Linked DNA regions of Homo sapiens. The gene in region 1 interacts genetically with each later gene. Each region holds a gene or a part of one and is shown on either strand. Other genes may lie near its edges.

Region 1 (4,303 bases):
GTGAAGGAAGAGTAATATAAAGAGTTTCTCAGTAGGGAGTAAGGAGTAGGGGACTCCACTCCCACCACCCCGGCCAGGCCAGGAAATTCCTTGTGGCCCTCAAGATCTTTACCTGAAAACAATTTTGTTGAATGTCACCCTGGCAATGTAAATTGACAGGTGATCTTCACAAGTGCAGGACAGAAAGTCATCACCTGAGACAAATGCATATCCAGTTGCTCTCTCTGCCCTAACGTTTATGTAAAAATGCAGATTTGGCCTGGCTCCGTGGCTCATGCCTGTAATCCCAGCATTTTGGGAGGCTGACACCGGTGGATCACCTGAGGTCAGGAATTCGAGACCAGCCTGACCAACATGGCGAAACCCCGTCTCTACTAAAAATATAAAAATTAACTGGGCGTGGTAGTGGGCGCCTGTAATCCTAGCTACTCAGGAGGCTGAGGCAAGAGAATTGCTTGAACCCGGGAGGTGGAGGTTGCAGTGAGCCAAGATTGCGCCATTGCACTCCAGCCTGGGCGACAGAGCGAGACTCTATCTCAAAAAATAAAACAAAAAACAAGAAACAAAACCTCAGATTCATGAGTCGGACTGAGGCATAAATGACTATTCCTCTACCTGCCCTGTACCCCATATAAATCGTGTATTCTGTGAAAGGCTGACCAAAGACTCAAAAGAAAGCAATCATTTGTCTCTACCTGTGACCATCTTACACATATTCATTTATATCTCACGTCTCCCTAAAATGTATAAAAGCAAGCTGTGCCCCAACCACCTTGGGTACATGTTGTCAGGACCTCCTGAGGCTGTGTCACAGACATGTCCTTAACCTTGGCAAAATAAGCTTTCTAACTGATTGACACCTGTCTCAAATACTTCGGATTCTCAGTCCTCTGTGGAGCTTCTGCCAGCCCTTCCAGGTGGCTGCCTTTCCTGGCCACTCAGAGAGCCCACACTCTCTGGCTTCACTCCCCAACCCACAACCCCTCCCTTCCACCCACCCCTGAGCTGACTGAGTTGGGAAGGTCTGGCTCTGTGACCACCCCTGACCTGAGTCCTCCAAGGTCCCCTAGATCTGGTACAGGGCTGAGTTGGAGGAGGAAAGTACAGATTTGGAACACATAAGATGGTGCCTGGAGATGGCCAAGTAAGAATTACCTGGAGAACAGCCTAGGCTAAAAGGGGGAAGCAGCATTACCAGTCCCTATTATCCATCAGGGCATGCTGAGGGTAAAACAGAAGATGAGTAAGGCCCCTAACTGGCAGCCAGTTTCCTTCTCTCAGCCAGGAATCTGCTCATCAAGAAAACTGTGCTGTCCAGGTGCGGTGGCTCAGGCCTATAATCCCAGCGCTTTGGGAGTCTGAGGCGGGTAGATCACTTGAGGTCAGGAGTTTGAGAACAGCCTGGCCAACATAGCAAAATCCTGTCTCTACTGAAAATACAAAAAATTAGCCAGGGCCGGGCACGGTGGCTCACGCCTGTAATCCCAGCACTTTGGGAGGCCGAAGCGGGCGGATCATGAGGTCAGGAGATCAAGACCATCCTGGCTAACACGGTGAAACCCCGTCTCTACTAAAAAAATACAAAAAAACTAGCCGGGCGTGGTGGCGGGTGCCTGTATTTCCAGCTACTCGGGAGGCTGAGGCAGGAGAATGGCCTGAACCCAGGAGACGGAGCTTGCAGTGAGCTGAGATTGCGCCACTGCACTCCAGCCTGGGTGACAGAACGAGACTCCGTCTCAAAAAAAAAAAAAAAGGCCAGGCAAGATAGTGCACACCGGTAATCCCAGCTACTCAGGAGGCTGAGGCAGGAGATCGCTTGAACTCCTTTTGACTCCGTTTCAAAAAAAAAAAAAATACAAAATTTAGCCAGGTGCGGTGTTGCGCACCTGTAGTCCCAGCTACTCGGGAGGCTGAGGCAGGGGAAGCCCTTGAACCCGGGAGGTGGAGGTTGCAGTGAGTCAAGATCATGCCACTACACTCTAGCCTGGGCGACAGAGAAAGACTCCGTCTCAAAAGAAAATTAAACGTGTGCCATGACATGCTGGGGACTCTAAAAGACTCCATCCACATGTCCCTCTACCAGCCACACCCACTCTGGTTCAAACACCAGCCTCCCCTAAGGGCGGCGTCACCTGCCACTCCCAGAGCCTAGACTCCACCTCACTCACGTGCTCAAAGCCCGGTAGTGGCTTCCCAACCCTCTCAGAACAAAACCCAGCCTCCTTATCCGCACCTTCTCTATCTAAGCCTTCCAAGTTCCTCTTCCCCGCCTTTCTCATCCTTCCCAGCACTCAAGAGACAGCCTTCAAAACCACTTCTAGATAAAGAGCAGCCCTGCTTTCCCGTCCCATCACTCTGTTATTATTTGCACACCATTACCTGTATCTAGAGCAACATCGTTCACTCATTTATTTGTACCCTGTAGCCTCCTTGTCCCCACTGCCTAGGACGGGGCCCGACACGCAGCAGGCACTCAGTGCACAGGTGCTGAATGAATAAATAAAATGAATGAAAATAAAGCGAATGCCAGGGAAGCCGAGGATTTTGTCCCCAGGCGGCTTCTGTAAAATTCTTTCATTTTTTTTTTCCCCCCAAACCACGTACCCGAGGGTCGCGCCAGCCCGACCCTGCGGCACCCCCACTCCCCACTCCGCGCGGGACAGGCCTCGGCAGCCGCAGCGTCTCACCCGGTCTTCGCGGCCACGTGGGGAAAGGTGGGGCGCGCGGTTGTCACCCAGGGAGCCGCCTCTAGCCCCTTCCGGCCGCCGTACGCGCGCAGGCGCTGTGGCGCCCCTAGGCTTGGCCTCCCAGAGACTCGCGGACGCTCACGATAACCAAGGACGACCGCGAACCAAGGTAAAGCCAACGAGGCCACCTCGTGCGCGACGGAGGCGTCTTTGCCGCCCCTTCCGGGACGCTCACGGTGGTCGCCGCCCCCAGCAGGGAAATGTTTTGCCTCCAGAGCGTCCGCCCAGAAGAAGCGGACAGCGCGCTTGCGCAAGAGAGCCGGGCCGCGGCGGCCCGCGCCTGCGCACCAGGACTCGGCGGCGGCTTGCGCCTGCGCGGCGCGGCGCTGCGGAGACCGTTGGTTCATTTGCATGTCCCCGCCTCGCGCGGCGGCGGCGGCGGGTGAGGAGCCTGAGGCGGCGGCGGGGGTGGCTCCGCGCGCGGTGGTCTCGGGGTGAGGCCCGGGCCCTGGCGTCGTCGGTGGGTGGCTCCCGGGGTGGGAAGCTCGGGCTCGGCCTTGGGGGCCCGCCCCGGGCTCCGTGATGGCGTCGCAGGCTCGGCCCTCTGGCTGCGGCGGCGGCCGCGTCCCCGCCGGGTTGGCCTGGGTGGCCGGCTGCGGCCTCCCGGGCCCGGCGCCCCCATTTCCTCGCCCGCAGAGGCCGGGAGACGGCGGGCCGCGTCCACAAAGGCTCATTGGTTCAGTCGTTCATTCATTCCTCCCGAACTCGGAGCGGCCCCCGCTCGGGAGGAGATAACGGCGCCCAGCGCTGCATCGGGCCCTTGCCCTCTTTAGAACCGGTTCAGCCCCCACACCAGCCCCTTTACTGGCTGCCCATTCCATAGGTGGGGAAACGGAAGCACAGAAAGCTTAGAATCGTGTGATTTGAACCTGGGTCACCTGACCCGGGAACCCTGCCCTTTGCCAGCAGAGAACAAGGGGGCGCCCCGGGAAAAGGGCTGAAGGATGGGACTGGGGGAGGCGGGTGGGGGAGGCGGTGATCGTGATGGGAAATGGACCCTACGGGTTGTCTCTTGAAGTTGGAGGTTTTGCGAAGCGGGATATCTTGATGGTTAAGGATGCAGCCCCTGGACCCCAAAATGTTGCTTAATCTTTTTACTCATTCTTCGGGGCTTTGGATGCACGAATACCCTTTTTGCCAGGTTCAAATCTGGGCTGTCTGGTCTTGAATGGGTCGTTGAGTCTGTCTCCCTTTGCCTCCTCACCCTAATGTCATTCATAACAGGACCCGCCTCTTCAGTGGGTGGTTGGGAGATCGCGCAAGGACCCAGCGCAGAATGAACTGTCACTAGTTCATTGTCATTGGTTGGGGGTCCCGCCACTCACTGTCAAGAGGCTTCTTTTAGAAGGGAAGGAAGTTCTCAGAGCCTCTGTGCCCTGCTGAGTCTGTGAATGGGAAAAGAGTGATCCTGGGCCAGGCGCAGTGGCTCACGGCCTGGAATCCCAGCACTTTGGGAGGCCGAAGCGGGCGAATCACTTGAGGTCAGGAATTCAAGACCAGCCTGGCCAACATGGTGAAACTCCATCTCTACCTAAAATATAAAAATTAGTCGGATG
Region 2 (3,811 bases), on another chromosome or scaffold:
CTAGTGATCAAGGATCATAGAACCTGGTTTACAGTCTATCCCCTGCCTAGTTCAGGGACTAACAGAATCTTGACAGATGTCTGATTCAGTCCCCTCGTTTTATAGCAATTGCTACTAACCTATGATTAGAACATGTTTAGGGCCAGAAATCTAACAATTGATATTTTGTTTTAAAATGCTACACTCAACCGGGCACGGTGGCTCACACCTGTAATCCCAACTCTTTGGGAGGCGAAGGTGGGCAGATCAGTTGAGGTCAGGAGTTGGAGACCAGCCTGGCCAACATGGTGAAACCCCATCTCTACTAAAAATAAAAAAATTAACCAAGGTGTGCTGGCATGCACCTGTAGTCCCAGCTACTTGGGAGGCTGAGGCAGGAGAATCACTTGAACCTGGAAGGCAGGGGTTGCAGTGAGCTGAGATTGCACCACTGCACTCCAACCTGGGCAACAGAGTGAGACTCTGCCTCTAAATAAATAAATAAATAAAATGCTACACTCTTGGTGCGCTGACTCCACATAGGGCATAGATATCTAGAGAGCCTGTATCGCGAATGTGAGCACTGCTTAGAAACCTTACAGGTTATGTCATCCTCGTAGAGAACATTTGAGCTCGGTTTGGTGTCACTGTCTTTGTCCCTGACTCACTGGTTGTAGAAGACAATGTAATACAGAGATATCAGTGATAAATTGAAAATAACTCTAGCTAAATGGCTAAGATTAATCATTTACTTCCCCCAACACTTTTGGTTAATGTACATTTAACCAAAAGTTAAGTGTGTTGGTAAACCTATAAGAGAGAGTCTCAGGAGTGTCTAAAGCCGCAAGGGAAAGAGAGCACCTCCCTTCACTTTAGCCTTGAAAAGCCCTGAGGAGGAGGTAAGATTTTTTAAGGGTTACTTGAATGACAGAATGAAAGGCAGGCAAACTAGATTGAGAGCATGTTCTGGGAATACGACATTGCTTGTGGCAGTGTTCGCTGGGTCAGAGTGGTATTTATTCCACATGCCTCTAAGAGCCTTCTCTGAGACAGTCAAAAGGATGCCTTCTGCCTCTTCATACACGGAACTTAGACTAGAGTGGGGAGGACCTAGATGGTCTAATTGGAAAGAGGGTGTTCAGCTTAACGCAGATGGAGAGAAGGGATAGGCTGAGGAATAGGAACCCGTTCAGACAGATGCCAAGGCAGAGCCAGCATGGTGCTCAGCTCCACTCTGTGGAGGTTGTGCCTCCTGAGTTTATGCAACTTTATAATTAGACTTGATTCGTCATAGAGAAGGGAACCTGGTGACCTTCAGGCAGGAAATTATGTGAACAGATGTTTGACAGTGGCAGTGAACAGTACATGGGAAAGAGTAAGAGGGAGGGAGGGAAAGGAGACACAGCAAAGTAGGAAGTGGGTGGAGGTGTGAGCAAGGTCTGCAGTAACAGTAAAGGATAACACCTCAGAATGGCTGCAGATTTCATGTGTATGATGAGAGGCTGTGATGTGTTGAAGATGAACCCAGACTTTCTTATTTGGAAGGTTAGGATAGAATGACACTGTCTGGAGTCATGGAAAACCCAGTCACTGAGCAGTCTGTTCCATGTTTAGTTTAGACGCAGGTGGAGGAGGATTAGCATGAGATGAATGACAAAGCAGCAGGTGGATGCTCAGACCTTGTGACCTTTCAAGGCTCCTGCGCAGTTAGGATGAAGTGATTCTATGGCAAATTGAGTACAAAAGTTCAGGAAGGGCCAGACGCGGCGGCCCATGCCTGTAATCCCAGCACTTCGGGAGGCTGAGGCAGGTGGATCACCTGAAGTTAGTAGTTCAAGACCAGCCTGACCAATATGGTGAAACCCCATCTCTATTAAAAATGCAAAAATTAGTTGGGCATGGTGGCGGGCGCTGGTAGTCACTTGAGAGTCACTTGAACCTGGGAGGCACAGGTTGCCGTGAGCCAAGCTTGTGCCACTGCACTCAGCGTGGGCGACAGAGCAAGACTCCATCTCCAAAAAGAAAAGGTCAGGAAGGGACAGGTCGTCTACATGTGTCACAGAGGCGAATAAACTTACCCCGAGGAGCCTGGCCTCTTGCTTCTCTGTTCAGTCTGTTTCCCTGCCCCGCTTTTGGTTACTGGTGAGCTGCATCATTCAGTCCTCTGACCCTCACTCCCCGCAGACTCCTGTCTCCCGTCTGTCCATCCTAGGCCTTCTGTTACTTTCTTCGTGCCCTTGATGCCTTGCATTCCATGTATTCACCTGTAAGTCCATGAACAGATCACCCTAGCCAGTATCTATACACAAACCTGTGTCTCACCTGTGCTCTGGCCCGATGGGCTTCCCACCTGCTGCTGACCACTGTTGTTCCTCCAGCCAGATGAGCTGCTCCCTGGTAATGTCCTGGTTATTGACTCATGACACAACCAAATCTTTGTTTCCTAAAGATGATGATCATGGGAGGTCCTGTCCTTTCAAATATGCGTGTGAGTTGATCAGAGCAGGGGCTCTGGGTACATCTCTCAGTGTCCTAAACATCATGTTTCAGTCATCCCTTTGCAGCTCTGAATGCTCTGAGCTTTGTCAAGCCTCACTGACTAATACATTTCATTAGGTTCATTTCAAATGACATGCATTTGTATACATTTTACCAGGTTGGTTGTATGAATTTATTTAAAAATTAAAGGAGACCTTAGTATAATAAACATTCTATATGATTATAAAGTCAGGAATTAGATCTTGACCACATCTCTCCAGAACTCACACTGCAGCTCACCCTGTAACTCAGTGAGCGCTTGATAACAGTGATGATAGTGGAGATGAAGATATATATTTTGCTCTTCCTAGGTTGAATACTGTCTTTCCAACTCCTCTGAGTTGTAGGGATGAGGCAGCTTTTTCTCCTCTGTGTTTATATTAGCACCGTGCACACAGTAGGAACCCATGAAACAGTAATTTAGTTGATGTGTCCAGGGTCTGCCAAGCTGCTGTATTTATCCACTTTATTACATATATTGACAATTTACCACCAGTTCTATGAAAATGAAATATATCTGTTCATATGGCTTTTTACTTTCCTTAGAATAATTTGAAATTTGAAGTTAATAGAACACAGTTTTGCATTCATTCAGCAAGTATTTATTGAATGTCTACTCTGTCAAGTGCTAGGGATCCACAGAAAGAATCAGACATGGTTTCTGTTTCCCAGGAGCACGTGGTCAGCTAGCACAGGGAATAAACTTACCAGTATGTAAATATTCACAAGGTCATAGAATGGATGAGTGAGTTGAGAGACATTCAACGTTCTATGGCACATCACATAGAAGAAGCAACTGGGCCGGGCGCGGTGGCTCATGCCTGTAATCCCAGCACTTTGGGAGGCCGGGGTGGGTGGATCACCTGAGGTCAGGAGTTTGAGACCAGCCTGACCAACATGGTGAAACCCTGTCTCTACTAAAAATGCAAAAATTAGCTGGGTGTGGTGATGGATGCCTGTAATCCCGGCTACTCGGGAGGCTGAGACAGGAGAATCACTTGAACCCAGGAGGTGGAAGCTGCAGTAAGCTGAGATTGCACCATTGTACTGCAGCCTGGGCAACGAGCAAAACTCTGTCTCAAAAAAACAAAAAAAGAGCAGCAGCAACTGACTGGTTGGATCAGGAAAGACTCTGAGAAAGGACTCCTGACCTGGCTCTTCCAGAATGAGGATGGATTTTCCATATGAAGGAGCCGGGGGCAGGACCTTCTGGGTAGAGCGTGAAAAGAACACAGTATGTGTGGAGAGCGGGAAATTGTGTTGAACTGTCTAGAAAACAGAGCCACAGGAATGC

The links.
Region 2: changes in ARMC6 (region 1) and SPPL3 together harm fitness less than expected from each alone (positive genetic interaction), as found in Homo sapiens cells (one large-scale study listed by BioGRID).

Annotation. Positions count from the first base shown.
Region 1 is NC_000019.10:19,032,315-19,036,617, reverse strand, and holds the start of ARMC6 (armadillo repeat-containing protein 6), read right to left. Parts: upstream 3,016-4,303; 5' UTR 2,688-3,015; exon of another isoform or gene 2,605-2,687; intron 2,488-2,604; 5' UTR 2,409-2,487; coding exon 2,380-2,408; intron 1-2,379. Other genes in the region: SUGP2 (SURP and G-patch domain-containing protein 2), read left to right, coding at 3,099-3,129.
Region 2 is NC_000012.12:120,771,827-120,775,637, reverse strand, and holds part of SPPL3 (signal peptide peptidase-like 3), read left to right. Parts: intron 1-3,811.